Linked DNA regions of Homo sapiens: region 1 is linked to region 2. The links come from fine-mapping of genetic effects on gene expression. A gene starts in region 2. The other region holds a variant in brackets. All regions are shown on one strand. Distances are between the middles of the regions.

Region 1 (2,884 bases), 82 kb before region 2:
AGCTGGAGAACCTCATGCTGGACAAGGACGGGCACATTAAGATCACAGACTTCGGGCTGTGCAAGGAGGGGATCAAGGACGGTGCCACCATGAAGACCTTTTGCGGCACACCTGAGTACCTGGCCCCCGAGGTGTGCGCCCCACCTGCGTGCATACGCGTTGCTGCGTCCCCACGTCCTGAGCACACGCAATGCTGTGTCCTCTCTGTGCCCCAAGCACGTCACACCTCCCCCGGCAGTGTCCCGGACACCCCTTGATGCCGAGTCCTGCCCATCTGCCACCCGTGCAGGTGCTGGAGGACAATGACTACGGCCGTGCAGTGGACTGGTGGGGGCTGGGCGTGGTCATGTACGAGATGATGTGCGGTCGCCTGCCCTTCTACAACCAGGACCATGAGAAGCTTTTTGAGCTCATCCTCATGGAGGAGATCCGCTTCCCGCGCACGCTTGGTCCCGAGGCCAAGTCCTTGCTTTCAGGGCTGCTCAAGAAGGACCCCAAGCAGAGGTGAGGGCCGCCCATCCCAGCTACAGGCTACACCTCCATCCCCTCATCCCCAGGCTGCACCTGCCCCTGCGCCAGGCGGTCCTGGCACCTCCCAGACTACACTGATAGCCAAAGCTTGATGTCCTTGGCCAGGGCTGATCTCCAAAGCCTCAGGCCCAAGCAGAGTGGCGGGCAGGCCGGGGTCAGTTGGGCCTCTGTCCCCAACCCTGCAGCCTGCACCCACCCACTCAGGAAGCCCCTGCCCTGCCGTGAGCTCTGTGGTGCTTTGCTACCCACAGCTGCTCAGGGACGCTGCACCACCGGCTCCCCTCCCTGGCCCCGGAACGTCCTGTCTGGCGGGCCCTACATCACAGGAGGAAGGGGCCTGAACCCAGGGCCTGGGCAGGTGGCGGTACCGACACTGTGGCCTTGTTTCCTGCCTGCAGGCTTGGCGGGGGCTCCGAGGACGCCAAGGAGATCATGCAGCATCGCTTCTTTGCCGGTATCGTGTGGCAGCACGTGTACGAGAAGAAGGTGCGGCTGCTCCCCGCATATTCACGCGCACGCATGCTCCCCACATATCCACACTCACGCATGCACGTGGCACGCTCGCCAGATTTCCCACACACTCGCCCTCACCTCAGGAGCCTGCTGCAGTCCTGGTACAAGGAGGGCCTTGCTGCACCAACCTCAGCGCCTGGTGCTCAGAGGCTCTGGCACTGCCGGGTTCCACCAGGAAACTGGCCTGGTCCTCATTTCCTCCTCCCCTCGGAGGTGTGTCACACTCTGAGTTTCCTCCTCCCCTCGGAGGTGTGTCACACTCTGAGTGCCAGCCTTGGGGTTCCCTTCCCTGACGCTGTGCAGTGAAGGCTGGCTGGTGGTGGACCAGGGGTGCTGCCCCTTGGCCTCCACGAGTTCCTCCTGTTTGACCTCAATCCCTTCTGCCGCAAGGAGAGCCCAGCCCTATTTCTGGCTGTGCAGGGACAGGGACAGCACCTACTTTTCTGGCACATGGGGGAGTCCGCCCTGGAGGGAGGCAGCTCTTTCTGCATGAGTCGCCATCCTGGGTGCTCATCTTTCAGGGACCCTAGGAGCCCTGGCCATCACCC[C/T]AGCTGATGGGGTCTGCCAGCTGGGTTCGGAAGCCTGCACTCTGAGATGCTGGGTGCCCTGTCACCAGGTGTGCTTCTGCCCCGTTCCCAGCCTGCCCCTCCCCTGAATGCCTGTCCTAGGCTGTGTGCAGCTGGTCGGGCTGGGCAGCCCTGGGACCCAGCTGGGCACCTGTTCTCCCATTAACACAGGGTGCCCTGGTCCTGGTCCCCGTTCCTGCCTTGAGGCCTGCCACCCTCCTGCCCTGCCCTCCAAGGGTATGGGGGGCCTGGGCAGTGCTCAACCTCTGCCCAGCCTTGACCAGAGACCTTGCTAATTGACAATGGACAATGCTGGTGCCCAGCCCAGACTCTGGGGTGGGGCAGTGCTTGAGGGGGTCCTTGACTGTGGGACCTGAGGGGCTCTCTGGCAGCTCCTCACGTGTGCACATCACCTTATAGTCACCCTTCATCCTGGGTCATTGAGAGTCCTGTCTGCAGCCAGATGCCAGCAGGCTGTGGTCCTGTAGTCCCTGAGCCATGGAGGCAGGGTGGGCTCATCCTGTGCACCTTGTTCCACAGTCTCCCTCTTTCCCAATTTACAAGAAGACCAATAAGAAAAATAAGAAAACAAGAAAGAAAAAGGAAAAATAAAGTTATCACCTCCTGGTAGCAGGGAGGGTCTCTCAGAGCTGGGCTGCACTACCTCCTGTCGCCTGCTGGGGCTGCTGTGAGGGCAGCTTTGCGTCTCAGCTGTTGAGGGTTGTCTCCGTGCTCCTGCACCCCTCATGTCCCTCCCTCCCAGAGCTGCCTCTGTGGGGGGCTGGTGGCTTGCTGCTCTCTGACATCAGTCCTGCCTGGAGACCCCTTGGAGATCCAGGTGCTTTGAAGGTCTTGAGCACACTTGAGGGTGTGCTGGGAGTGGGGAGCGAAGCTCATGACTGTCCCGTCTGCCCACCTCTGCAGCTCAGCCCACCCTTCAAGCCCCAGGTCACGTCGGAGACTGACACCAGGTATTTTGATGAGGAGTTCACGGCCCAGATGATCACCATCACACCACCTGACCAAGGTGAGGGGCCACTGCCTGCCCCCGCCCACTCCCTTTTCTCTCCACACTCAGAGAGGCCTGCAGTGTTCAGCTTTTTTGGCTTCAGATGTTTTAAAATCTAAATATTTAAAAAGGTTCCTTTTGGAGAGTGCCAATGATCAGGGTGGGAGGCAGTGCTCTGAGGGCCCAGGTCCCTGTGTCAATCTGTGGGGCCCTGTCTCAGTTTCCTGGCAGTATGGCAGCGTGCTGGCCGTGCTTTAAGAGGTTG
Region 2 (2,896 bases):
GTAGGAGCTTCCACGTCCCCACATGTGCGGTGTGTGTCATTCGCTTGACAGCCGTCAGCTCCTCCACAAAGTGGGCGCTCACCTGAAGGTTAACTCAGGAGCCCTGGCTGTGGAGGCTACAGTCGCACCTGGCCACTTGGTCCGTCCCCACTAGCGACATCCCCTTTGCCGGGCTGCAGGGCCCATGACAGTCCAGGGATGGGAGGGCAGGGCCTGGGCAGGGCCCACTGCACCAACCTGGCTTTTAGAACAGAAAATTGCTGCTGCCCTGGTAGGGGTGGGAGCAGTGTGAGGTCTCAGACCCCAGGCCTGGAACCCAATGCTACTATTTGCTGCACTGGGGGCTGAGCACCGACACCCCAAAAGCCCCTGGCTGGGTGGCACCCTCGGGGTCTGAGGCACTGCTCTGGGACCCCACCTTCCCAGTGCAGGGCGGCAGGGAGCAGGTCCCAGCCTGAGCTGCTGTCCCACCCTTCAGAGTGCAGATGTGGAAACTGAGGCCGGAAGAGGGCGAGTATCCTGCTCCATTCCAGTGCCAGACGGAGGGGCAGGGCTGGCAGTAAGGGAATTTCCTACGTCCAGCGCCTTCTGGGTGTGCCTGACCTCTGGCCCGGTTCCTGGGTTCCTGGTTCCCTGCCTGGGCAGGGTCTCTGCCTCTCTGCCTCCTGGTGTGTCCAGCTGGAGTGGGCAGTAATGCTGTGGTCACAGCTGAGCTGCGGGAGCCCTGGGTGGGGAGCTTGAGCCCCAGAAGGCCCAGACAGACAGACCACCCCCCACGCCTGTGCTCCCCAGGGGGCATTGGGGACGGTCAGGGACACAGCTGGTCACCCCGCCTTCCCCTCCTTAGTCATGGTCACTCCTGGGGCGACTCCCCAGTTAGAGGGTTGACGGGTGGGTCTGGGGGCGTACAGGGATTGGATCCTACCCCACCCAAAAGGAACAGAGAGCTGTGATGGAGGCTGATTCCCCTAAGCCTGCCAGCGGTTGCGGGGTGGGAAGGGCTCCCTGTGCGCCCACCTGCGCGTGGGCAGCTGGAAGCCAAGCAGTCAGGGTGGGGCCGCAGGCCGGCGCGCACCTCGGGGTGCCACCCGGGCGGCGGACCCGAAGTTGAAGTTTATTTTCCCAACTGTGGCTGATTCATGGTCAGGATGTGGCAGCCGCGAGGCGCGGAAATCCCGCCTGCCCTGGGAGTAGGCCCGGCCGACCCTGGGCCCACCACTCTGCGGCCAGTGCGCGCTCGGGCGGTGCCTCGGCGCGGAGGACCATAGTCCCGAGCGGGGCGCGCGGAGCCGGGGGGGCCAGGGGCGCCCTGGGGTCCCCGCCCGGGAACTGTACCCTGCGCCGCCGGACCGCCCGCCGCCACCTGGGCACACACGCCGCAGCCCGGAACCTCGCTCCTGGACCCAAGCACGCCCCTGCCTCCTCCCGGACTCAGTTTCCCCTGAAGCTCCAAGCGGACCCCGAGGCCAAGGACTTACCCGGTGAGGCAACGGCCAGAGGGCGGTGGTGCGGCCGGCGCTCCGTCCGGGGCCGGGTCAGGGGCTGCGGGCAGCCGGCGCCCACTGCCGCGCTCCGCAAGGCTCGGACGGTGGCTCCTGGCGGGCGCGGGGCGGGCGGGGCGGGCGGGAGGAAGAGGAGGTGCCGCCCCGCCCGTCAGCGGCCACGTGGGGAGCGAGCGCGGGCCGGGGGCGGGGCCTGGGGGGGGAGGTGGGTGGCTGGGGGTGGCCCCGCCCACTGTGGCCGGTCCCTGAGGGCGCTTTAAGGGGTCTCCCCACTCCCGTGAATAACCTGGCCGCCCCCTCGCGGTCCCTGCTGGCCTGGCTCCTGGTGGGCGGAGATGGGGGTGGGACGCGCAGATCGGGGCCGTCTCCCGCCTCAGCCCCCACTGTCCGCCCCGTCCCTGCCCTCCACCGCCTCCCGTCCACCTACACCCCTATCCTCCGGTGGGACTGGCCTCCCAGGCGCCGCTCACCTCTCTCTGCCCCGGCCCGGGACTCCCGTTCCAGCCAGCCGGATCCGGAGTCCCCGCGTTCGGGGATCCCTCAGCAGAGATGGCTCTTCCCAGGCTTTGGGGAGAGAGAGCCTACCCATCAACCAGGCCACCCATGTGGCCTCCTCTCCGCAGCCCTGCCTGACCCCCTTCCACCCTTGATGGGGTCTCGGCGGTCTTGGGCAGCCGCACTTCGCCGGTTGGTGGAGACAGCTGCATGAGGGCCGCGGAGGTGTCGCAATGGGGTGGGTTTTCTCTGCCACCCCTCTGCTGTCCGGCCTCATCTGTCTCCTAGATTGAGGGGGGCACCCATCCCCCCACCGCCGACATTGACCAGCATGGGGCGTGCCCATAGTCGGCTCTGAAAGCCAGCCTGGTTGGATGAGAGCCAGACCCCAGCTCTGGAAGTCCCTTCTGACGTCTGACCCTCAGTCAGAGCTGCAGGAAGCAGCGCACCAGGCCTGGGGTTTGGGGGCCACTGGCAGCTAGAGGGAGGGCAGAGGAAGGCAGGCCTGGGGGAGCCCCCGTGTGACATGTGACAGAGCAGACACAACCCCTGCCCTGAGAACCGGCGCCAGCACTCCCTGTGCGGCCTCAGGCTCGGATATGACTCTGTGGAGCCTCAGTTTCCCCATCTGTAAAATAGAATAAGTACCCGTAAGGGCTGTATGAGGGTCAAGAACATGCGGATAAAGTGTCTCCACTCGGAGTCCTGACATCTCTCTCCGGAGGGCCTGCTGTGTGGGCCGTGGCGGCCAGGGCTCAGGGTGAGGGCGAGGGGAGAGAAAAGGGCTCCTGAATGGCTTCCCAGCCCCGATGCAGCTTCTGCTTTGAGGCCAGCTGCGTGTCCTTTGGCTTTGGTGTGCCTCCGCTCCGGTGGGGATAAGCGCCGAATTGCAGGCTGCG

What was found. PIP is the estimated chance that this variant, and not a neighbour inherited with it, causes the effect.
Region 1: its variant is fine-mapped to the expression of INF2 in whole blood (TOPMed, PIP 0.98).

The regions. Positions count from the first base shown.
Region 1 is chr14:104,770,498-104,773,381 of GRCh38, reverse strand. It overlaps AKT1 (AKT serine/threonine kinase 1), which reads left to right. Exons shown (of 15, transcript NM_001382430.1): 11 at 3-131; 12 at 290-504; 13 at 930-1,017; 14 at 2,535-2,637. Among named protein-coding and RNA genes, the nearest start is that of SIVA1, 19 kb to the right of the region's middle. The variant C/T (reference allele first, on the strand shown) is at 1,593.
Region 2 is chr14:104,688,322-104,691,217 of GRCh38, reverse strand. INF2 (inverted formin 2) reads right to left here and starts at 1,600. Exons shown (of 23, transcript NM_022489.4): 1 at 1,479-1,600. RefSeq lists silencers at 1,087-1,136, 1,227-1,466, 1,487-1,576, 1,677-1,936 and enhancers at 1,629-2,618, 2,619-2,896.